Linked DNA regions of Homo sapiens. The protein of the gene in region 4 purifies or fractionates together with the protein of the main gene of each other region. This does not show direct contact. Each region holds a gene or a part of one and is shown on either strand. Other genes may lie near its edges.

Region 1 (3,500 bases), on a different chromosome or scaffold from region 4:
TTTAAAAAATAAAGTTCCAAATACTTTACTCATAAATATATTTAAGAAACAACTAGAATTAGTTGAGATTCAGTGGAAGCTGAATGTAAGCTAGAGTCTTCTTGCTAAGTTTTCCTAAAAACTTATAATTGATCAATATGTTCAAGAATATCACTTTAAAAATTCTTGCTTTTCCCAATTTTACCTGCTTTGAAAAACAAACTTTTAACTACTTCTGCTTTTAATTCCCAAATCTTCCAAAATATTTTATTTTTCCATAAATTAAAATGCTATGTCAACTGAGTGTGAAAACCTTGATTCTGTAGCTCAGCTTTAGCTTATTATTATGGATAAAATGTATACAGTGTTAACAGTTATGTAACTGACTCTGGCTTTTATTCCCATAGAAACTGAAAATGAATTACTAAAAGTGGTATATACTGATAAAAGAGTGCTTAAATTAAAACATCCCATATTTGGTAATCTGGCATCAGTTTCCAGAGATGTAAGAATAAAGTGACAGCTTGGCAGCTAAGCTGTTAGAAATTTTTTTATAGGTTTCAGCTTAGGCCTGCCAGCTATATTTCTAGTTGCTAATAATTCTGGCTCTATATTGAGTAAAATTCTTCCTTAGAAGAACCAAAGAAAACTATGAATAAATATCTTATTGGTTTTTATAATTACATGTATATAGTTTAAAGTACCGAGTAAACTGTAGATACATCTGCTGAAAATTACTATTATAAATACTAGCACATTCCATAGTTAGGGGAAAAAAGTTGACCATAAAGACTTATAATACTGAGAAAAAAATAGCATTTTAACAGAACGTAGAGGTTATTTTCACTAGCATCAAGTATCAAGAAGATAAGCATTTGGTAAAATAATTCTTTTTCATGTAAATACTAGAGAAACAAATTTTTTGGTAAATTATATGTTGTTGACAAAAGACCATATCAAATCCACCATAGAGAGTATATTAAAAGTACTGCATTATTTGAGGGAAATAATCAAGAATATAAGCAAAGTGAAACTAATACTGATATTTTCATAATCACTTTAATATAGACATAAAACCAAATAAATCTAGAAAGATATTTTGGTCTCTAATAATCTATAAAATAATATTTAAGTCAGGCACATTAAACTATGTCAAAACACTATCTTTTGGTACTTGTACTTTTAAAACAATTGTTTTATATAAATTGAAGATTCCTGCTATTTGTTAAAATTCATGCAAGTAAGACATAATTAATTTTTGTGTTTAAGTTACATAACCATATATTACATGTCATTTTGATCATTTATTCCAACAAGAAGTTGATGTGATTTAGTATCTTTCAAAATAGCCAGTAAAGAAATTTTCACTATCAAAAATCATTAGATGAACCACAGCATACTTATCCTCACCAGACTGATGATGTGTGTGGTGTCCAGATGCCTCAACAGACTGCCTTTGTTCACTGTCTGGAGAAGATAGCAAAGGAGTAGAATGAGGGCTTTCTGTGGGAGATGATGTCGAATGAGCCTGAGCTGACATTGTAGAGGATGTAGAAGGCTGAAGAAATTGTTCAGCTGGAGTATCTACTTCCATTGCAGTTTCACTCACTTCCAAATCAGGACTTGATGGGACCGTAGGAAGAGTTGAAATATCTGATTGACTTGTTCCACCTTCAAAACACATGTTAAGGCAAATTCAAATTTTAAATATTTTCTAAAACCAACAACTCTAAACAGATATGCTCAGAAAACACATTTATATTTACACACACAAATATATAATTTCAGTGATAATAACTACTGGTGATTTGGCCCATTTGACAAAATAGGCCAGTCAAGAGGGATAAAAACTTATCTACAACATATTCTTGTTAAAGCAATCAATCTTTCCTATTACATAAAACTTGTTTATACACAGAATTTTATATATTTCCATTCTCAGAGTGCATTAAAAAAAGGCTTAAAATAGGAAACCTCAGATTCTTCTACTTTACTTTGAGAAAAGCAAAAGATACGCACTAGGTCCAATGGCACCAGAAGGGACAAATTATATCCAATATCTTTTATTCTCTACTACTTCACACCACACAATAAGAACCTTGTGATTATTACAGATGTAAAACATGGTATAATTTACATGATAGAAATAAAAACTGGCTTCAATAAGTAGTTTTTGCCAGCTTTCTGATGACTTTAATTAACATTAAAAATTACCTCTGGGTCGAGATCTTCCTCGTCCTCTATTGCTTTGTGCAACCTCACTTGCTTCTTCAAACCATCTTGATAACATATCAGACATTCTCTGCATCAATGACACATTGGGACTCTGCTCTCCTATTACAATATAGGTCTTATCAGTGAGTTTAGTAATAAGTCAGAATCTTTCATTAATACAAAAACCTAGATTTGAAGGGCTTTAAAATGAAAGCATATTTTTAAAAATCAAATTTCCTAAATAAATTGTATGAATGTATATAAATCTATTAGAGCTCTCATCACATTTTATAGTAATTGTTTATATCAGTGACTTTCCATGTGTATGGTAAGGTTTCTTGAGAACAGGGCTCACCTCTCCTTCATCTTTGCCTATTCTTAGGTACCACTAAACCTCCCACTTCCTACCTCAACCTAAATTTTTAGTTCTAAGAGTACCCAGCCAAGAAAGGCTCATGAATTCTAAGTTTAATAGATTAAAAGAAAGGTTTTCCCTCTCCCTAAAGCATTATAATCAAGTACAGACACAAAATAGCCTTATGCTTTTGCATGAAGTTTCCTTAAAGTCAATTTATTTTCAACATCATTTACTGTAAGCAAATTTCAGATATTTGAAATTAACTGGAACCAGAAAGTATTTTGTCTCTTCCCTCACTCCTTTTCCTCCTGCAAGTAAACAAGTTTTTCCAAGGGTATTTTCAAATTAAAAGTGTAATGTCAAATTCAAAATGTGACAACTCTATTCTATAGTCTTATAATTTAAAATGAAAATCGGTTCTTCTTACATTTTCTGTGAAATCAGAGTTTCTTTTACACTTTATTGCCTTTATATAATGTAGCTCATATATTGGGGAATATGCTTTTGATCACAAGAGATGTTTCAGAAGTCATTATAGTAAGATTTTGGTTACAGACCAATTTAATAAAACATAATAATATAGAATTATAATTCATAGATTAATTCTATTTTCAAGTGTGCTATCTTAAAGCTCCCAGGGTTGATTCTTATGCTTATCAAAGGCACTTGATAGAAAACATTTTATGTGCTAATATAAAACCCTTGGGCTGAGTTTTCATTTCTCTTAATATCTAATAGAAAGGCAAAAACTGCAAAGTCTGACAATACCCAACGTACTATGGGGTAATGGGCATTCTTATACTTTCAGTGGGAATGTAAATTAGCACATCTTTTTTGGAGACTAATCTGATAACAACTACCAAAATTAAAAGGTACTTATCCAGTGACTGCGCCATTCCACTTCTAAGAATTTATCCTAAGATATATTTGCATAAGTATACCTATATGT
Region 2 (3,500 bases), on a different chromosome or scaffold from region 4:
GCCTAATTAAAATTCTAACCAAATTTGCTAATGTATATTTTGTTTTACGTACAAAAACAGGCATCCATGTGTCCTTGTTTTAACTTCAGCACTTACATATCTGTGAAATGGGAGGAACAGAAATGTTTCTTCTCCTAGATATGAGACTCCACCACTAAAATGTTCTGCCTGTAAAGCCTTAAGCTAATTCAGCAATAGATTCCATAAAAGGTTTGAAAAAAAAAAAAAAACACCATTTAAAAGTCAGTAATTCCCTTGAGCTAGTAGTAAAAATGAAAATAATTTACTCTGGGATTATGGTATTGCTGTTGAATCATTTATCTACGTAAACTATTTGCACTTCAGAAAAAGTAGAGGCCCCACATGTTTTTTTTCCATTTTCACCAAGGCCTAAGGCTATATAACATACGTGCTTTCTGGCTTACCTGATGTTTCTAAGCTATTAGTTCGCCTCAGTACTCATCCTCTTAAAAAATAAATCTGAACTAAGCACTGAAAAGTAGAAAGCCTAAAGCCAGAATTTATTTCAGGTAATTATTGTGTAGATAATATGGTAAAAAGTTAAAATCAAGTAAATGAAATCTTATTCTTTTATTCTTGGAATTACACTATTAAGATATGGATTTTTGAAATTTAGAATTTCAGCACAATTTGTCTTTGAAATATTTCATGAGACTTCTCTGCAGTTACAAGGCCTAACACTTCAAAATTCTGAAGCACTGTAACAGCAGTAATCAATTAGGCCTTACCACATTCTCAGTTAATAATCTTACAACATTCCAAGTTAATATTAAGTCATCGGTCTTTGGTTAAACATAAGCCAATGTTAAGGGGACAAAATCAAAAGGTTAATTTACTTAAGTACTTTTATGTTTGAACATTTATAAACAAAAGATTAAGATTTATGAATCATTTTTATTCTAATAAGGTTTCTCATTGTAAATAAAATACAGCATTTATAAAAATTTCATTACAAAGTATGTTCATAAAGTGTAGGTTTATTAATATGCCTTACTGAGCATCTGCTATGTGGCAAGTTGTTCAGAATCCTGGAGGAACCTACATATCATAAGCTAATTTTTACTGTATGGTGGTGATAAATTAAAATGGTCTTATATTTCAGTCTGCATTATAGAAGAAACTTAGTAAAATTCTTTCATAATGTAGCAACCCTATTGATTCATTTATGAGAACTTCAAATTAGTCAGTTACCTCCCTATGAAATTTAAAAGATCAATGTATAGCATTTAACAAGTTGAAAAAAATAAAAAGCAAACAGAGTAGCCTTGAAAATATTTTTATAAGTTCAACTCATTTAGATCACATGAAGAAAATCAAATGGAAGCTAAAGATCCCTAGGGCTAAGGAGCCTAACACAAACTTTGACCTTGGCCCGCGCAGCTTTTTTCGGGCCTCCGTCATTGCAAATGCCCCAGGAAATACAAATCCCATCAAGGGCAGTCAGCGTAGCATACCAAACTCCTCCTGAAGGCTTGAAGTGAATTCTAGCATGCCCATTGCCTAAGAGATACTGAAAACTTTCTACAGCACCCCTCAATTTTTGGAACAGGTTGGAAATATGAAGAAAGTCTAATACAGATGTAAAGGCAGAGGAATAGTCTCCATTTCCATAGCAATAAGACCTAATGTCACCTCTAGATCGTCAGAAAGTCTGGCTAGACATGAGCAAATTGGAATGAGGGAGAGGAAAGCACAGGTCAAGATTAGTACTAGTCCCTTGGGCAGTTCTACAGCCAGAATGCTTAGCTTCTGACCCAAAGCTGGGACTAGGGTACTGAGTGATGTGCTTAGGGCCTAACTCTCAAAGAGATACACCATGACACTAACAGTGACAGCCTCCTTAAATTTTGCATCTCAGGTACCTCACTCACTTAACCTAGTCTAGGACATTTAAACTATAGTTTTTTCAAGAGTTTTATGTCAAGAAGCTCATAATGTCAAGGCGTTGTTGGTGACTAATAAATGAATCTATATTTTAGAAAATTGGGGATATAAAAAATGGAAAAAATTAAAATGTTCAAAAGAAAGGCCATCTCCCAATTAGAGAAGTATTGCATGCCAAAAGTATGTAAAGTTGTCCATCAGGCAAACTAATTCTGCAACAGCTCATTTGGGACTGAACACAATTAATATTTCAAAAATGTAGTTTGCCATAGATGAAATCCGTCCTAAAATGTGTCTATATGTAGTAAAAGTCCAATAAAATAGTTATTCTTAAAAGTGTGTGATAACCCCATCCCCACTCTTACATCTAACGTGTACAGAGGCTCCAATATGATAATGAGTTATATTTCCTGTGACTATCTTTAAAGCTACTACAATGTAAGTAAATTATTCTAATTGTAGGAGTTTTTATAGTTGCCAATTTCTAATCAAATGACAATAGCTCCTCAAGACGGAACTAAATAGATACTTCTATGTGAAAATCAGAATATAAAATCTTAAAAATGAATGCCTTTCAAAAGAAATAATGACTACCAGTGCTCATTCGTAGCTGAAGTATCAGAGAGGACACTTGGATTGTTAGGTTCCTAGCTTAATTATAACACAGGTCACCATTGTTAAAAAATGAGTGGATTAATGTTAGAAGGAGTACTTATTGAACACTTTTCTATTCATAGGGAACTTAAGCTTTACAATTTAATACTTTTGATTTCCAAATTCATTTGCAAGTAAAAATAAAACTATTTAGCTTTGATGACTTTCCCAGACTTGTGAACTCAGAATTCTGAAGTCTGTAAGTTTCTTGAAATCAGAGACTATACTCTTATGATCCACTTATTTCTATTTATCATTCTTCCTGTATACTCCCATGGTAGAGGTTCCGTGTTTATTAAAGAATAAATGAATGAATGAATGAAATAGGTTATTATGGTGTCTATTCTGCCTTTTGGAATTAAATTTGCCATACTGAAAAAAAAAGATTATTTGCTTCATTTTCCTTGAGTCTGATTTATTATAAGAAATATCTTCTTAGAGATGTTTAATATTAAGGCAAAGGTGAACAAATCATTATTATAAATATTTGAGAATTCTTATCAAATACCTTGTCATTGCAACAACTTGTAGTCCATAAAAAACATAAGGACTCTTTGATCTAACCCTCTACTAAGTCCTTCTACTAAAATGTATAGAATGGAATTTTTTTTTAAATATCCAGTTTTTGCTTTAAAATGTTCAGTTTAATGGTTTAAATTTAAAACTTTAAAGATTTTTGAGAATTGTTCATGTGTGACAATCACATAATTTGTCAAGTAAATCAGTCATCATTTGCACTATACAGATGACAAAACTTAGGTTCAGAGAATATGTGACTTGTCCAAGAACAGGGCATTAGGAAATGCATAACAGGGGTTAGATTCCAGATCTTTTTGTGCCCAATCCAGAGTATATCCCACTATTACACTGTTACAGCCTGCTGAATGTAATAATGAGTGCTGAACATTTTCAGTACTAATGGAAAAAGATTATGGTATCTA
Region 3 (3,250 bases), on a different chromosome or scaffold from region 4:
CAGCCATGGACACGGGGCTATGGGCAGGTATGTGGTTCTGCTCTGATCGCACCTGCCCACCCCCGAAGGTGTCTGTCCTGGCAGCGGCTGGGCCTGGGGCAAGCTGAGCCTGCTGCTGTACTCCTACTTTTGCTGGGCTCAGTTGGGGGAAGTAGAATGACACCCTGGGCCCCTGGGTATTAGCAACATTCATCAGCCCACCAGACCTGGGCCTGCTGGGCCCCACAGTCCCCTGGGAGAGTTGCCCCTACCCACAACCCATGGGACTTGGGAAGGCCCAAGCCAGAGGTAGGTGGGAAGCTGCTGGTGAAGGACGCAGCCCTGGCTCTGGTATGGTTCTGGGCCCAGTGCCCCAAGGTCACAGCTGGACCTTGGCTCCTGGGCCAAAGCCCTCAGGCCCACCAGCTGCTTGGACACCAGCTCCGAGGCCCAGGGAAAGCTGAAGAGGGCAAGGCCAGGTGCCTGCCCCCACCCTGCCTGCCTCTCAGCTGAAACACCTCTTCACCAACACAATTCCCCTTTATTGATGACCTTCCACATTAATATCATACAGCAGGGCGGGGGCAGGAACCAAGCTGAGTGGAACCAGAGGCGGCTCGCTAGCAATGTTATCCACAGGAGCACAGCCGCAACGGAGGTGAAACCTCACACCCTGGCCCCTCGGCCCCAGACAATCCTGTCTCCAGGTCCTGGGAGTTTGGGAAGCAGGGTACAGATGGTGGCCTGGTCATGGAGTTGGCAGGGAGTGGCCGGGGCTGAGCTGGTGAGACAAAGAGCTCTTGCCAGTCTCCTGCTCTGGAGGGCTGGTTCCCTTCCCCAGAGGAGGCACCGGTGGAGGACGTGCCAGGGGCCCGGGCCTAACGTCCTGCTCAGCCTCTGCACTCAGCCCCAGGTCGGGCCCTGGCAGGTGCTGGGATGACCCACGGAAGGCACTTGGCTGGGGCCTGCAGGCCCCCTGGAGGATGCGGTCCGTGGCTCAGTAGATTTGGGGGGACCAGGGAAGAGGGAACCAAGGAAGAGGGAACCAAGGAGCTGAGCCCTGGTGGGTGGCCCATCCCAGGGTGGGCTTGGCTGTGGCATTGGCAGGCCTGAGTCCTAGGGGCTCAGAGCTTGGCCCGGGGGTGGCTCTGCAGCAGGGCACGCATGTCCAGGAGCGCCTTCTCCAGGTAATGCGCCAGGCGGGCGGCGTTGGTCTCCGCGCAGCTGTTGTAGGCCGACAGGGAGAAGTTGATGTGGGCCTCCATGGGGTTATAGCAGACACCGTAGCCGTCGGGGACCACGGGCCCGAAGAACATGACACAGTCTGTCTTGGCAGGGACCTGGGGACGGCAGGATGAAAGCTCTCAGCTCCCCTACCTTGACGCCCCCAGCACTTCCCAGGCTGCCTGTGCTTCCGCCAAGACTGCAGGCCCCTTGTGGGCAGGGATCATGGTCTGTCCCCTGCTATATCCCAGCAACCACTACAGGCTGGCACGAATCAAATGTTCCTTTATACCTGACCAGTGAGTCAGCGAAGCTGATTCTCCCATGAGGAGCACTGACCCCTTCTCAGCCTGCCTGGGCTGCAGAGAGGCCCCTGCCCCCAGCTCCTCCTCTGGAACTCAGCTGTGTTGGCAATGGGTCAGTGGGGCCTGTGTAGGCCACATCAAACTACCAGTGGGTTCTCTGCCTCCAGCCCCCGGGGCACCTGGGGCAGTGGCCCACCTGGCTGGTGGAGAGGTGGAAGTGCATGGCGATGGCGTAGGAGGTGTCCATGAAGATGTCGGGCATGCTCACCAGGTCCTCGATGGCCTGCAGCTTCAGGCCCAGCAGGTGTCGATCAAAGGCCTCCCCGCGGATGGCCTGTTGGGGTGGGAGAGCTGTCAGGAGCAGGGGCTGTGGACCCCCGGGGTATCCCTGCCCTCTTCAGCCTGTGGCAGCGCCACCCTTCGCAGGCACTGGCCACTCAAAACCACAAGACCAGAGTATTCTGGCCAGAGAGAGCCTTCGTTTCACAGATGGGGAAACCAAGGCTCAGGGAGGGGCGGGGATTTGCCCAGGGAGGCAGGAAAGTGCAGGGTTGTAGGGCAGGGCCCTGGAGCTGGGTGACCTAGCCCCATCCTGGCTGCAGGGCCTTGGCAGGTTGCTTAGGTTCTGGAACTGTAGTGTCTTCATCTGTAAAGAGGGGTGAGTCCTACACTCCCCTCGCAGGGTGGCGGTGAGCTCTAAATGGACGTGTGCATGTAGCACGGTCAGAGCCTGGACACACAGGTGCTCAGAGACAGAGCCAGGACACGCATCCAGACAGCCACCTCCCTGACTGCAGCCCAAGCTGCTGGAGGGCAGGAAACTGGCTGTCTGCTGGACCATGTATACCTAGCGTCAGGGAGAGATACCTAGCATCAGGGAGAGAGTGTGACCCAACATCTAGGGCCCAGGCCAGCCCTGGAACCTGGAACCAAGGCAGTTACTGGGCCCAGGCTGGGTTTCTCCAACTTTAAAATGGGGATATTTGGCCGGGCACGGTGGCTCACGCCTATAATCCCAGCACTTTGGGAGCCTGAGGTGGGTGGATCACCTGAGGTCAGGAGTTTGAGACCAGCCTGTCAACATGGTGAAACCCTGTTTCTACTAAAAATGGAAAAATTAGCCAGGTGTGGTGGTGGGTGCCTGTAATCCCAGCTACTTGGGAGGCTGAGGCAGGAGAATTGCTTGAACCTGGGAGGCGGAGGTTGCAGTGAGCCTAAATCACACCACTGCACTCCAGCCTGGGCGACAGAGCAAGACTCCATCTCAAAAAAAAAAAAAAAGAAAAAGTTGGGGGCTATTCAGCCTGGCTCCAGGTGCTCCCAGGTTGGGGGAGATGTGGTCCTAGCAAAGGGTTGGCAGCCATTGGCTGCAGGGACGGACAGTCAGAGGGACAGACAGATGGCTGACACTAAGGGACAAGTGAGTAGGCACAAGCGGGCTCACTTACCCGGTCGGTGTAGCCTCGGTGGGCCTGCACGGCCTTCCGCAGCAGCTCCACCTTCTGGTGCTCCTAGAGTGGTGAGGGTCAGAGGGAGCTGAAGCACTGTCCCTTCTCTTCTGGCCCACCTCAGTAGCCCACCCCCACCCAGCACTAGATTCTGAGCTCTTTAAGAGGAAATATTGGGGCTGGGAGCGGTGGCTCACGCCTGTAATCCCAGCACTTTGGGAGGCCGAGGCAGGTGGATCCCTTGAGGTCAGGAGTTTGAGACCAGCCTGGCCAACATGGTGAAATCCCGTTTCT
Region 4 (3,234 bases):
TGAAGTCCAACTTATCCACTTTTATGATCACAGTTATGTGTGTCCCATTTAAGAAATCCTTGCCTACCCCCTAAACATCCCTTGAAGCCACCTCTTCCCTTCTGACGTCTTCACCTCTAGCCAGCTCTTTGCAGCCAGTTTTCTCCCGTGCTTCTCCATTCTCCTCCCACCGATGTCCCCACCCCACTTTTTGCCCCCTCCTCTGCCTTCCTCACTGCAGTCAGCACCATATCCTGCCCAGGGACAGTCCTGGCTCCTCTGAGAGTCCCTGGGACCAGCACAGCCTCTGGCATGCACTAGGTGCTTAATAAAAGCTCCATAAATGAAGGCAATATCCCGTGGCTTAGCAGGGAATCGTTAAAACTGTCAATTAGCTCTAAACACCAGCTCCTCGGGAACATTTGAGCAGAGCCAGAGGAACAAAAAAGGTTTGGAAAAACCAACAAGATAGGAATGTTTCGTTTTCTCCCTCGCTGGAGCATTTACCGCACAAACTCAGACCTCATTAGCATTATTTATTCTTGCTTTGTCCCCAACCGTAGGACAAGGGAAGCCTTTTTCCTGCAGCCTCTGGCTGCAAGAGCTCCCTGTCACACCCCACAACAGTGTTTGCTGCCCCTGAATGTCGGGGAGACTTGTGATCCCCTAATCCTTCTCTTCACCGTGAGTGATGACGTAGCACAGGTTTCTGTAGTCCAGGTTGCCGCACACATCTGGGGGAAATGCTGCAAACATCTGCTTGACCTGAGAAGGAGCAGAGAGTCAGCCTGCACCAGGCCAAGTGGGGGCCAGAGCAGAGAATCCGCCGTGACCCACCAGAATCCCAGTTTACCTCCTCCTCACTGAAGCGGTCTGCCTGGGTCATAAGTTTTTCTTTGATGCTGTTCAAGGGAGAGACACAGTCATGTTCAGGGAACGGGATACCCAGCTTGAACATGCAGATCCCAGGGGTGATGAGGGGCAAGTGGGGGCAGGGGGACATCCTGGACCAGGAGGACATCAACCTGGGGCTGACCCTGCCAGCCCCCCCGATGGCCAAGTAGCTTCTGAACCTCGGTTTTCTCCTCCATGAAGTGGGCTTTCCTCCCAGCATCAGGTAGGGACCAAAAGCAATGACCTGGGGACCCCACCATGAGGGCTACTCTGATTTCCCATCATGCACTATAATCAAGCTCTGGATCATTGAGGGGAGACACCTCAGGTCCCCCACCGCAGAGCCTCTTTTGCCTGATTCTGGACACACTCTTTCCTCCAGCTTGTGACGTTCACTGACACCTGCATAGTGTTTTAGAGACAAGATGCCTGTGCTCTGCCAAGGGTACAGGAAGGCCTGCCCAGGTCCGTGTCCTCCTGGGCCTGCAAGGGCCTGCCCCCTCAAGCTTGGAGGGTCCTGCAGGGTTCTTAAGGGAGCTCAGTGGGCAAAGATGGGATCAGACGGCTGAGTGGGGCCTCGTCCACCCAGAGTGTCCTCTGGCACCGGCTGCGGCAGGCCTCGCTAAGGACCAATGCACATTTTCCATTATTTATGTTTCTGTGGGACAGTCACAGTTTCCAGCTCTCCAAGCCGGGGACTTTTCACAGACTCTGTTTCAACCAGAGCCTCCACCGTGGCCTGTCTGGCCTGCCTGGCCTGCAGCCACAGATCCAGGTCCCATGTCCCAAGGCAGTGCCTTCAGTTCCCAAATTAGGTCCCCAAAGGGTCTTCCCAGCCTTGTCCTTGCACTGGTGAGAGAGAAAGTGGTTGACAGTAGAGGGAGGGCTTGGGGTTACTCCGGGGGTGACTCTGATGCCTCCCCAGGTCCCCAGGATGGAGGTAGGAGCCACAGACCCCGAGGGAGGGGTGAAGGGGAGGACTGTGGACTGCAGCAACCCTCAGCATCCCCTCCCCATCCCAGGGGAGTATGTGACTCATGGTCTTGGAGTTGAGAATGTGTGAGACGGGACAGACCCTCTCCACCTCCACCCCTGCTGCGTCTGCCCTCTCCCTTTGAGATGCGAGAATCTCAAAACCAGCAAAACTAGCCTCAAAATGAAGGCTGGCAGCATTACAGTAATTGATCAGGAAGCCTGGGCCTGGGGAGGAATCTCACCTGCCCCAGGCCACCCTCAGGTCCAGCAAGGTTCTGAAGGGACTGCGTCGGCACAGCTCAGAGGTCAGCCCTGAATCTTGGGTCCTGGGAAGGCTGCCACTCCCCCGCCCACTCCTGCCTGCAATTCTTGGCTCTCTGTTCCCTTGCTGTCACTGGGTGGGGCACCCCTACCCTCATGATGGCAGCCCCGGTGCCTGCCAGACAGCTGCCTGCAGCCACTTCCCCTTCATGCATTCCAAGTGAGCTGGTCACTTTCCCCAATCCTTACTGCCCTCTTGCCCGAGGCGGTGCTGGCTACGATCTGGCTCAGTCCTCTCCCCAGACCCTGGATCCTATGGGCACTGGCCCCTGGCTCTTTGCTTATCTGTCCGCCCGACTCCATCTCGACGGCCATGACCCTCCTGGGAGCTGCAACCCTCTCCTCTCCTTCTCCAGGCTGGCCTCCATGGTGTCCTTGCCTAACTCCTCCTCAGGTTCTCCCATGCTCCCAGGGCAGACGCAGGGTCCAGGGGCTAGGGTGTGAGCGCTCCCCCAGAGGCCCCGCCTGCCGCTCTGTGCTCAGTCTCCCCTACACCACCTCCACCCGCACCCTCCAGCTGCAGCCAACTCTGAACAAACATGCACATGCCAAGCCCTGGCCCTCCAAGCTCTCTGTTCCCTCATCTAGAATGCTGTTCCCCCCCTAGCCTGGGCAACCTGCAGTCATTCTTCAAGATCTGCCTTTGCCCCCACACCCACCCCACTAGGAAGCTCTCCTGGAGTGACCCACCACTTCTTCTTTTTTTTTTTTTTTTTGAGACAGTCTCACTCTGTCGCCCAGTCTGGAGTGCAATGGCGTGATCTCGGCTCACTGCAACCTCCACTTCCTGGGTTCGAGCGATTCTCCTGCCTCAGCCACCAGAGTAGCTGGGACTACAGGCATGCACCACCATGCCTGGCTAATTTTTTTTATTATTTTCAGTAGAGATGGGGTTTTGCTGTGTTGGCCAGGGTGGTCTCAAACTCCTGGTCTCAAGTGATCTGCCCACCTCGGCTTCCCAAAGTGCTGAGATTACAGGCGTGAGCCACCGCGCCCAGCCTGACCCACCATTTCTTATCCATTTCTACTTCCACGCACACATAGAGAAGGGGACACCAAGGCCCA
Region 5 (3,500 bases), on a different chromosome or scaffold from region 4:
TTTTATATTTTTAGTAGAAATGGGGTTTCACCACGTTGGTCAGGCTGGTCTCGAACTCCTGATCTCGTGATCTACCCGCCTCGGCCTCCCATAGTGCTGGGATTACAGGTGTGAGCCACCGTGCCCGGCCAAAAAAGAAATTTTTACAAATGAGTCAGTTGCACATGAGTGAACAGGAGGGTGTTCAGCTGCAGAAGCAGGGCAGCATTATGTCTGAATCAAAGGAACTTGTTTCTTCAAGCTCTTCTGGCAGGAATTCTGACAGTGAGTTTGACAAAAAGTTAAAGAAGAAAAAGTAAGTTGCTCCAGAAAAACTTGTAAAGGAACAAAAGACTGGCAAAACTTTGGGAGCTCTGTCATCTTCCAAACAGAGCAGCGGCAGTAAACATAATAACATGTTTATTTTCTTTTTTAAATTTCATATAGAGATGGGGTTTCACCATGTTGCCCAGGCTGGTCTCGAACTCCTAGTCTCAAGTGATCCACCCTCCTCAGCCTCCCAAAGTGCTGTGATTAGATTACAGGCCACTGTACTCAGCTGATAACATGTTTCAGATTGGGAAAATGAGGTACCTTAGTGTTTGGGATGTTAAAGGGGAAGTGCTAATTGATGGTATTAGAGATTATTGGATGGATCTCAAAGGTTAAATAAAACCAGGAAGAAAAGGTATTTCTTTAAATCCACAGCAATGGGGCCAGCTGAAGAAACATTCATTCATTCATTCATTTACTGAGACAGGGGACAAGGTCTCACTCTCGTTGATCAGGCTGGAATGCAGTGGTGCAATCATGGCTCACTGCAGTCTTGACTTCCTGGGCTCATGTGATTCTCTCATCTCAGCCTCCCGAGCAGCTAGGACTACAGGTATGCACGACTATACCCAGCTAATTTTTTGTATTTTTAGTAGAGACAGGGTTTCTTTCTTTTCTTTTCTTTTTCTTTCTTTTTTTTTTTTTTTGAGTCAGGGTCTCACTCTGTCACCCAGGCTGGAGTACAGTAGAGTGATCACAGCTCACTGCAGCCTAGACATTCCCAAGGGTAAAGTGATTCTCCCACCTCAGCCTCCCAAGTAGCTGGGACTACAGGCGTGCACCACCATGCCTGGCTAATTTTTGTATTTTTTTTAGTAGAAATGGGGGCTCACCATGTTGCGAAGGCTGGGCTCTAGCAATCTGCCCACCTTGGCCTCCCAAAGTGCTGGGATTACAGGCATGAGCCACCGCACCTAGCTGGAACAGATATTCTAATCGATACATTGATGATGCAGTAAGAAAACTGTAAAGTCTGAGCCATACAAAACCTACACTATCCTAGTTGGGTTTTTTTGTTTTTTGTTTTGAGATGGAGTCTCGCTCTGTCACCCAGGCTGGAGTGCAGCGGCGTGATCTTGGCTCACTGTAGCCTCTGCCTCCCAGGCTCCCAAGTAGCTGGGATTACAGGTGCACGCCACCATGCCCAGCTAATTTCAGCAGAGATGGGGTTTCACCACGTTGGCCAAGCTGGTCTCGAATTCCTGACCTCAGGTGATCTGCCTACCTCAGCCTCCCAAAGTGCTGGGATTACAGGCGTGAGCCACCGTGCCTGGCTTCTAGTTGTATTAATCTGTCTTTTTACATTGGCTTCTGTTTTCTAAATGTTGTTCTCCAAGCTGTCATATGTTTGGATTACAGAACAACTTGTAAGATGAATACTTGTTTTAAATGTGCATTATTGAATATGTTCTGTCCAAGTGCGGTGGCTCACTCCTGTAATCCCAGCATTTCGGGAGGACAAGGCAGGAGAACTGCTTGAGCCCAGGAGTTCAAAACCAACCTGGGTAACGAGACCTTGTCTCTACTAGAAATTTAAGAAAAAAAAAGAATTAGCCGGGCATGGTGGGTACATGTGTGTAGTTCCACCCACTTGGGAGACTGAAGCAGGATTGCTTGAGCCCAGGAAGTCAAGGCTGTGGTGAGTCATGATTGCATCGCTCCAGCCTGGGTGACACAGCAAGACCCTGTCTGGAAAAAAAAGTCCTAAGGGAAGCTAACTGTCAGCTTTATTAAGAAGGATTGCTTTGTACCTACCACCTAATGTAAAATAAAACCAAGTAATACATTCTCAACAGTTATGGCCCCCCTCCTTTTTTTTTTTTTTTTTTTTTTGAGACAGGGTCTCATTCTGTCTCCCAGGCTGGAGTGCAGTGGCACAATCTCAGCTCACTGCAACCTCCATCTCCCTAGTTCAGCTGATTCTCCTGCCTCAGCCTCCTAAGTAGCTGAGATTATGGGCACACACCACCAAGCCCAGCTAATTTTTGTACTTTAATATAGATAGGGTTTCACCACGTTGCCCAGGCTGCAGTTGTGTCCTTTTTTTGCTCATAAGAGCTAGTACTGTTTAAGGCCCAAAGTAATAGTTTTTACAGATCTTTTAGTTTCAACTAAGCTTTTACAATAGAAAGGACTTGTATTGCATTGAGTTTATAAACTTTTGGTTTGTGAAATCCATACTTGATCTGTTCTTTTCCAACCAAATGTCTAGGCTTGACTTTTCCACCCCAATGACATTTCACTTTATTAAATATTAGCAGATATACTTTGATAACCAACACAGCTTGTATGAAAACTGAGCAAGTGTCCATCATGACCCATAGGGTTCTGGGTAGTTGTTACCTTACTGTTTAGTCCACAAAAAATAACGACTTAGATAAGCTGTCTGATTTGCTTTCGCTTATTAAACACGTTCACCATGAGATGATGTGTGTAACATCAGATACCGTTAAATTAGACTAGGATTTAATACAAATCCTGAAAGCTTAAAATAAATAAATAAATAAATGGCTGCAAGGATTCCACAACAGGGCATGACTATAATTTAACAAAAAAAAAAAATCTGTTGGCCAGGCATGGTGGCTCATGCCTATAATCCCAGCACTTTGGGAAGCTGAGGTGGGAAGATCGCTTGAGTTTCATACCAGCCTGGGCAAAATAGGGGAATTCCATCTCTACAAAAATTTAAAAACTAGCTGTGTGCCAGCCGGGCATGATGGCTCACACCTATAATCCCAGCACTTTGGGAGGCTGAGGTGGGTGGATCTCCTATGCTCAGGAGTTTGAGACCAGCCTAGGCAACACGGAGAAACCCCGTCTCTACCAAAAAATACAAAAAAAATTTGCCGGGCATGGCGGCACACACCTGTGGTTCCAGCTGTTTGGGAGGCTGAGATGAGAGGACTGCTTGAGCCCAGGAGGCAGAAGTTGCCTTGAGCCAATATCACACCACTGCACTCCAATCTGGGTGACAGAGTGAGACCCCATCTCAAAACAAAACAAAACATAACACTCTGTGTGTGGTGGTACATGGCTGTGGTCACAGCTACTTGAGAGGCTGAGGATGTAGGATTGCTTGAACCCAGGAGATTCAAGGCTGCAATGAGCTGTGATCATGCTACTGCACTCCAGCCTGGGTCACAGAATGAGATGAGAAAAAAAATATTCTGTCAAGAGACAAATACATT
Region 6 (3,500 bases), on a different chromosome or scaffold from region 4:
ATGGGGTTTCGCCATGTTGGCCAGGCTGGTCTTGAACTCCTGGCCTCAGGTGATCTGACCGCTTTGGCCTCCCAAAGTGCTGGGATTACAGGCGTGAGCCATCGCGCCCGGCCTATTTTTGCATTTGATTCTTGCAGTAGCCCTGTGAGATCAGCTAAGCAGATGTTATTATGCTCATTTTATATGCAACAAAACTAAGAATGTTGGCTCTGATTGTGCCATGTACTATCTAACACTAAGGAATATTGCCTGAGATATCCAAAAATGGCACCATTGGATGTTAATTTATCTTTGGAAAGAATATCTTTGGCAGTATCTAGTAAATCTGAGCATACACATACCTTATGATCCATAAGTTCCATTCTTAAGTTTATTTCAAATAGGAGTGAATATATTTGTTCACCAAAAGACATGTAATAGAATGTTCATAACAGCACTGTTTGTAGTAGTTCCAAACCGGAAATTACTCATATGTCCATCAACAGTAGAATGGATAAACTGTGGTGTGATCACGCACTCAACTTCCATATAGCACCAATAAACTATTGCTAAGCAATGATGAAACTCCTAAACATAATATTAAATGAAAGAAGCCAGACACAAAATGAATACATATTGTGATTGCAATTATATAAAGTTTTATATAAACAGGCAAAACTAATCTTTGGTGATAGAAGTCAGGATGGTAGTTACCCGTGGGTTGGGGGATGGGCGTTACTGGAAAGGGGCATAAGGGAGGGTTCTGGGGTTCTGGTAATGATCTGTTTATTGACCTGGGTGCTAGTGATATGGATGCGATTACATCATGAAAATTCATCAAGCTTACGATTTGTGTACTTTTTCCGTAATGTATAGTATACTTCAGTAAAAAGTTAATTTGCCTTAGGCAAAACAGAAACCCATTATCTTAGGCAAGGTTTTTCAGTGGCTTCCCATGGTACTCAGAATAAAATCCAAAGTCCTTACCATGGCCTGCATGGCAATATATACATGATCTAGCCCCTGACTACCTCCTCCACGTAATTTCTCCCACCATTATTCCCCTTGCTTACTCAGCTCCAGCCACGTGACCTTCTTACTGGTCGGCAAACAGAATAAAACTCCATTCCACTCCAAGGCTGTGTTTTTGCTTTTCCCTTTGCCTGGAATGCTCTCCCCTCAGCTTGTTACATTGTTGGTCTCGTATCATACAGGTAACAGCTCAAATGTCGCTTCTTCAAAAAGTCCTTCACTTAACACTCCATGTGAAATAGATTTCCCAGTCGCTCTTTATTATATAACACTATTATTTTTTCATAGCATTTATAGCTAGCTGAAATTACTTTGTTTATGTATTTATTACTTGTTTATCATCTATCTTCCTCAATAGAAGGTAAACTCTGTCCAAAGACTGAGGTCGTGTCTGCTGTATTCGTCCTTGTATCTTTAATGCCTGACGCACTGCCTAGCATGTAGCTGGTGCGCATATAAATGTTAGGGTTGAACGAATGATTGAAGATCCCTGGGTGAATGGTCCACTAGGCTATAGCTGGGATTCCTCCCACAAAGGGAGACACTTAAGTTGTAAGTCATCCTGTTAAAAGGAAAGCTTTGTTAGTACAACCTCTCTTGTCCACCCCACCTCAGCTTGGTGAGGAGAAAGCTCAGCGCTTTCCCCAGTGCTTCCATGACCTTTGGCCAGTAAAGACTTAAAATATCATATCATAAGATGAGAGAAACAGTTGGAACTTAACTTCTATCCCGTATCCTTAGATTATTCAAAGAAAAACAAAACACGGTCAACAGGCAGTGGAACTCCTCACTCCAATGTGATATTCCTGAGAGAATATTGACTTATCGTCACTTCGTCTCTGGGACAAGTATTGAACATAGGGGAAGCCTTATATAAAATTGTTCAATAAACAAAAGATGTCTTTAACATGTGTTTGAGATCTTTCTTCTCATGATTCCATGTTAGGTACAACAACTATGACCGGGCTGTCATCAATACCGTTCCTTATGATGTCGTCCATCGCTGGTATACAGCACACCGGACTCTAACGATAGAGTTGAGGAGACCTGAGAATGAGTTTTGGGTCAAACTAAAGCCTGGCAGGGTGGGTCCTAATCTCTAAAGATGTCAAGCAAGCTTGTAATACTGAAGCAGTGAAGAACGGGTACTTACTTAATATGTGAGTCACGATGTTGCAAAGGAAAAAGAGAAAAGAGTCCTTGGTTTTGTTTATGGTCCTGCCGCCCACTCACTGAATGCTCTGGAAGCAAGCCTCATCCCATCTCTAAGGCATCAGTGACTCTATTTGTATGATGAAGGGGTTTAACTAGATGACCCCCAAGGGTCCTTCCAGCTTCATGATTCCATAGTTTTTATTTTTGGTATTTCCTCTGGATGAAAAATACCTTCAGCTTAGCATAAAATGTCATGAGATAATTTAACCCTTTGAGAAAGGGTAGAATAAGAATTAAAGAAAAAGAAAAAGAAACAAACCAATTATCTGATTTACTTTGATAAGAGAACAATTACTTGAGAAACAGAAGCTCCTCCAGTGCAGGGCCCATTACCTACTGTTGCCTCTGTAACTTCCATTTAGCCTACTACAGGGCTATACACATCTTAGTTTCCAAAAGTTTGTTTAATTTCAAAAGAAAAATATCTCATTTAATGCAACCAGAAAACAACCTAAAGGTTATCTTTTAAATGATCTCTTCTGACTTAGGGTTCCTTTGGTCTGTCCTTCTTCTGACAGTGTTTTCTCTCTCTTTTTTTTTTTTTTTTGGCCCATTCACAGGTCCTATTTATAGACAACTGGCGTGTCCTACATGGCAGGGAATGCTTCACTGGCTACCGCCAACTGTGTGGCTGCTATTTAACAAGAGATGATGTATTAAACACTGCTCGCCTCTTGGGGCTTCAGGCTTAAAATTGACAGCATCTGGATTATGAATACACCTGGCACCCTGGCTACCAGAATTTCATATGGGCAGAATAATATTGTGTCAAACTCTACTTCAGATTGTCTCCTTATCCCATCCCACAAAACAGAATCTGTCCGTTTCTCTAGTAAGGGAGACTTGTTGGAGAGGCGGGACTCTGAGTTATCTAATGTCAGACATCTAGTGGGGCAGCTCTCTTCCTCATGTTATAACATGGATCCACTTGTTTGATTTAAACCTTTTAATATAATTTTGGTCAGTCTCCTTCAGAAATATAATCTCCATATTGATAGGAAAGCAATAATTGCCATGAGGTAACGATTTTTTTCCCAAGTAGATCAGTTAGAAAGAAATGCATTCTAGAAATAACAAAAATCCTGATAAAGCAACAATTTGCAAAATGTTTGGTCTTAGGACACCTTAACACTCTTAAAAGTTATTGAAGGCCCCAAGGAGTTCTTGGGTGTGGGTTCTATCTATTGATACTAATTATTTTAGGTATTAAGACTGAGAAATATTTAAAGCTCAAGAAGAACACAGAAGCACACATCCCTCAGCTATGAGAGAGA
Region 7 (4,002 bases), on a different chromosome or scaffold from region 4:
TTCTCACAGCAAACCCGTGGGGTGGGAACTGTTACTCCCATTTTGTAGATGGGGAAACTGAGGCTTAGGGAAGGTAAGTGGTATATAGCCAGGTCTCATAGCCAGGGAGTGGAAAGCTGGGGTTCAAATCCAGGGCTGTAGAATACCAAAGTCCACACTCTCCATTGCTCCCTCATTGTGATATGACTTTAAAAGAGGGTGGAGGAGGGAGAAATAAGGGTTTGGTGGGGAGGAGGCTGTAGGAAGGAATGGAGAGAAAGAGAAGACCCCCACTTTGAATCACCCGAATTGCATTCTTTTTTCCTTTGTTCTTTGTAGCTGTGACTTGAAGCTCCACCAATATCCCTATGTCCCCACGAGCCCCAGGAAAGCTGGCCCCAGCCTGCAGACCTCATTGATTTTGTTGTCCAGCTTCATCACTTCCCCTGGTTTCATTAGTTTCTTTTGAAAGGCACTCCGGACCCGCTGCCAGTCTTCCCCTTCCCTGTGAGAGAAGCAGGAATACATTTAGAGCACACTGAAAAGAAAAGAAGGAGATGCAGAAATACTCCAGCTGCAACTTCAGGAACCATAAAATCAAACAAACACTGAGAATCATGCCAAGAAATAGCCAGAGAATATTAGCATCAGAATATTTGGGATAAAATAGTGATCATCTTTTGACAATAGTTTGACAATAGGATGAAAAAGCACCTTTCCTCCTAGTCAAAGATTGCACCAAAAAGTTGAAGTCCAGATAATTTGGGTTCAGGGATTTTGAGGTGTCCTTGCAGGGAGTGGGGCTGGGAGGCCTGGGGACAATTCCTAGCGGTAAAAGGGGGCATGTGAACACCCCATCACCAGCAACTCAGATCTGTTTGAGGGAAGAATCTTGTCTTCTTTCAACTCATTGGTGTGGGCTTCATATTTACAAAATATCTCAGATTTAGAATTTTGCCATCGCCTCCAAATAATAACATACAGTCAGAGAGTCACTGGAGTAATAAAAAGCCTTTTGCGATCGTGCACTTGTAGGCACCTGCCCCATAGCAGACCATACAGCCTGTGAAGCACCGTGAATTAATAGGGTTTTTAATTCCAGTCATTATATCCTGGAAAATATAACGATTAGGCATTACAGTTTGGGGGTAAATAAAGGTGCTAACTTGTTAAATGCTAACAACTAAAAAGCAGAAGAATCACATCCCATAGTAGCATTTGTCGACCTAAAACACAACTTTGATATCCCTCCTTATTCCACCTTTACAAGTAGAAATAAGGCATGTCCCCCAATCCTCTGCAGAAAATGTCACTGTAAAAAGCCAAAGAGGCTAACTCCTCGCTTTTGAGCTTACAAGGTGTTTCAGGGAGTTTTAAGGGATAATTTTGTTTGTATAAGATGTTTGCCTGGTACGCTGACTTCAGAACCTCATCCTGCCCAAGAGTCTGAACACCACAGTTGGTACAACCCTGTTTTGGCGTTTCTTTGATGGGAGGGTGTGGCCCTGCCCTGTTGCCAGAGAGAACGCAGGTGCTGGGTGCACAGCACGGCTTTTCCGTGGACCGACTCTAATCTGTACAAGAGCTCAGGGTTGCGATGGCACGGGAGAGGGGCTTTGGTATCCGCCCTACGTAAGAAGCTTCCAACCCCAGGGAACTCTAACTCCGCCTCTTCACAATTTCCAGGCGCCGTCAGGCTCATCAGGTCTGGCCGCATGCCCAGGTCCCTCGGATTGGACTCACAGGATCAGCAGCCCGTAGCCTTCTTTGCGGTAGTCGCGATAGGCCTTCCACGGTTTGATCTCCAGCCGCTGCGGGTACGCGCTCTCGGTGCGGTACAGCGCTTCCAGCAGGCATGGCGAGCCCAGGTGCACCGACTCAAAGGAACCCAACTTCATGCGGAAAATCTTGCCATACTTCTTGTGGTACTCCACCTGCAGCCGGCCGGGCACAGCGCGGTGTCAGCGCGCATCCTCCGCCGTGCCCGAAGCGCTTTCCCTCCTCCCGCCTCCTTCCTCCTAGGGGACCGGGGACCCTCCCTGCCCAGACGCCGAAGCGCACCATGCGCCCGAGGCGCGCATGTCGGGGAGGGTTTGGAGCGCCACTGGGAGGGCGGAAGAGGGAGGAGAGAGTCAGGGGCGCGAAAAGGGGTTTACCAGGGTGTCGTGCTGTTTCTTGAGACCCCCTTTCCAGAGAATCTGCAGCAGGCTGCCCAGCAGTGGCCAGCTGGTGGGGCCCGGCAGGGCGGCCGCGTTCTGAGTCTCGCCACCAGCTGTCAGCGGGCAGACTGGCACCTCTCGCGGCTGAGGGGACGTGTACGCCGTAGATGTCACCAGTCTCGGGGGCTGCCTCGGACTGCGCAGCTGCTGCAGGAAGGCGGCAAGCGAGCGGCTCTTGCTGATGGGGGAGCTCATGGCAGCGGGGGACACCGGAGCGCGGGAAGGCAGGAGGATGGGGTGGGGCGAGGTTGGTACGAGGTGCTAGTGGGAGTCGGGGCTTAACGATTCTGGGAAAAGGAAGCAAAGAGGGCCAGCTGGTGTGATGGAGCGGGGTGAGGCGGGACAGGCAGCAGAAAGGACCTCGGCGAGGATGCTCGACGCTGCACCACGCGACAGCCTCAGAGCATTGGTGCCTCCTTGCACTGGCCGCAGGGGCTGGAAGAGGGTGGCCGGTGTCTGGGGACCTCTTGAAAAGGGAAAGCTGGGAGTCCTCCTGTTGGTCCGCAAGGCTGACCTCTAGGGTCTGGCTGGAGCCACGGGGAGGTGTCAAGGAGGGTAGATGAGATGCTGCTGGCGCTGCGTTTCCTCCTGTCCCTCTCCATGTTCCTATGCCCAGGGACCATGCATTTATGGAGACAGAGCATGCCCTGGGTGGCCAATGAGCACGCAGAGGAGGGCGGAGTGGCCCCCGGCTGGCCAGACTCCGAGGGACGCGGGACCCAGGGGAGGGGGGGTGGAAGGAGGATGGAGTCAGCGAGGTGAGCGAGGGCGTCCGGGCCTGGGGTGACCGGGGCTATGTTCGCTGGGCGCGGGAGGTGGGGTGGGGGCGGCAGACTCCACCCCGGAGATAACCCCCAGGAAGTCATGCGAAGCCCGGAGTTCACCGGGTGTGCTTCGAACGCGCCTCCCCGCCCTCCCCCGGCGGGCAGGAGCCGGCAGCGGCGGCCGTGGTTGCCGCCCGGCGCTTGCACAATCGCGATGCCGGGCGGGCGAGGTCCCCGAGTGCGGGCCCAGAAAAGCTGCCGGCGTCTGCCAGGGCCCCGGGGAGCCCGGGCGCCTCCCGGGGAGCCAGATACCCCCAGCCTGGACTGAAGTGATTTTTTTTTTTTTTTTGCCTTTTTTTTTTTGGAGGAAGTTTGGCTTTCTGCGCCTCCCAGGGTGGGGAGGATTTGAGTCTTACTGAAATGCACCAGAAGAGGAGACTTTCTTAACTTGAGCAAGAAGGGGAGTTTGTAGAATTTCCTTCCTGCTGTTTCATGTTTGGTTGTTTTGCAGATTAAATGAATTAATGCACGTAAAGCGGCAACAACGAAGCCTTGTCTATAGTCAACAGTCAATAAAAGTTAGTTGCTGTTGTTACTTCTTTAGGAAGTTAGGAAATGCGCCTTGAGAGCGTGGCTTGCACCAACGATGCTTGAATTCAGGCTGGGCCACCTCCCCTATGTCCACTGCCCGCCTCTGTTCTTCTACACCGACTACCTTGTGCAAAGGAGGGGCACACAGAGCTTGAAACCACCGCCCCCAGTACTCCCCCTCTCCCCCAAGGTGCGTCCTAGGCAGGTCCAGTGACAAACATACACAATTTCTAGAGTTACCGCGGCTGGCAAGAGTAGAACTCGCTTTGCTAATTCAGGAACGGAAGTTGGAGATTTTTGTTGATTGTTTTAAAGTGGCTCGAATCCTTTCAACCTGATCCAATACAAAACTACCACCAGCCAGGGAGGAGGGGAGGGACATTCTGTTTCCTCGCCCTGCTTTTCAATTACGTGTCTCAGTCATTTTTGCCCCAAGTGTTGGCAAATCC

What was found.
Region 1: the proteins of MYL10 (region 4) and DCAF6 purify together in Homo sapiens (affinity purification with mass spectrometry; one large-scale study listed by BioGRID and IntAct). This does not show direct contact.
Region 2: the proteins of MYL10 (region 4) and CPS1 purify together in Homo sapiens (affinity purification with mass spectrometry; one large-scale study listed by BioGRID and IntAct). This does not show direct contact.
Region 3: the proteins of MYL10 (region 4) and CRAT purify together in Homo sapiens (affinity purification with mass spectrometry; one large-scale study listed by BioGRID and IntAct). This does not show direct contact.
Region 5: the proteins of MYL10 (region 4) and EARS2 purify together in Homo sapiens (affinity purification with mass spectrometry; one large-scale study listed by BioGRID and IntAct). This does not show direct contact.
Region 6: the proteins of MYL10 (region 4) and TMLHE purify together in Homo sapiens (affinity purification with mass spectrometry; one large-scale study listed by BioGRID and IntAct). This does not show direct contact.
Region 7: the proteins of MYL10 (region 4) and CYP24A1 purify together in Homo sapiens (affinity purification with mass spectrometry; one large-scale study listed by BioGRID and IntAct). This does not show direct contact.

Annotation. Positions count from the first base shown.
Region 1 is NC_000001.11:168,002,683-168,006,182, reverse strand, and holds part of DCAF6 (DDB1- and CUL4-associated factor 6), read right to left. Parts: intron 2,314-3,500; coding exon 2,194-2,313; intron 1,651-2,193; coding exon 1,390-1,650; intron 1-1,389. UniProt on the Homo sapiens protein: Ligand-dependent coactivator of nuclear receptors. Enhance transcriptional activity of the nuclear receptors NR3C1 and AR. May function as a substrate receptor for CUL4-DDB1 E3 ubiquitin-protein ligase complex.
Region 2 is NC_000002.12:210,559,599-210,563,098, reverse strand, and holds part of CPS1 (carbamoyl-phosphate synthase [ammonia], mitochondrial isoform b precursor), read right to left. Parts: intron 1-3,500. UniProt on the Homo sapiens protein: Involved in the urea cycle of ureotelic animals where the enzyme plays an important role in removing excess ammonia from the cell.
Region 3 is NC_000009.12:129,094,294-129,097,543, forward strand, and holds the end of CRAT (carnitine O-acetyltransferase), read right to left. Parts: intron 3,020-3,250; coding exon 2,957-3,019; intron 1,843-2,956; coding exon 1,705-1,842; intron 1,320-1,704; coding exon 1,104-1,319; 3' UTR 501-1,103; downstream 1-500. UniProt on the Homo sapiens protein: Catalyzes the reversible transfer of acyl groups from carnitine to coenzyme A (CoA) and regulates the acyl-CoA/CoA ratio. Also plays a crucial role in the transport of fatty acids for beta-oxidation.
Region 4 is NC_000007.14:101,612,830-101,616,063, forward strand, and holds the end of MYL10 (myosin regulatory light chain 10), read right to left. Parts: intron 882-3,234; coding exon 833-881; intron 745-832; coding exon 646-744; 3' UTR 501-645; downstream 1-500.
Region 5 is NC_000016.10:23,536,851-23,540,350, forward strand, and holds part of EARS2 (nondiscriminating glutamyl-tRNA synthetase EARS2, mitochondrial), read right to left. Parts: intron 1,326-3,500; exon of another isoform or gene 1,233-1,325; intron 705-1,232; exon of another isoform or gene 534-704; intron 383-533; exon of another isoform or gene 154-382; intron 1-153. UniProt on the Homo sapiens protein: Non-discriminating glutamyl-tRNA synthetase that catalyzes aminoacylation of both mitochondrial tRNA(Glu) and tRNA(Gln) and participates in RNA aminoacylation for mitochondrial protein translation.
Region 6 is NC_000023.11:155,490,953-155,494,452, reverse strand, and holds part of TMLHE (trimethyllysine dioxygenase, mitochondrial isoform 1 precursor), read left to right. Parts: intron 1-342; exon of another isoform or gene 343-1,573; intron 1,574-1,752; coding exon of another isoform or gene 1,753-1,888; exon of another isoform or gene 1,889-1,918; intron 1,919-1,957; coding exon 1,958-2,096; intron 2,097-2,786; coding exon 2,787-2,918; 3' UTR 2,919-3,500. UniProt on the Homo sapiens protein: Converts trimethyllysine (TML) into hydroxytrimethyllysine (HTML).
Region 7 is NC_000020.11:54,171,187-54,175,188, forward strand, and holds the start of CYP24A1 (1,25-dihydroxyvitamin D(3) 24-hydroxylase, mitochondrial isoform 1 precursor), read right to left. Parts: upstream 2,801-4,002; 5' UTR 2,394-2,800; coding exon 2,136-2,393; intron 1,914-2,135; coding exon 1,723-1,913; intron 485-1,722; coding exon 391-484; intron 1-390.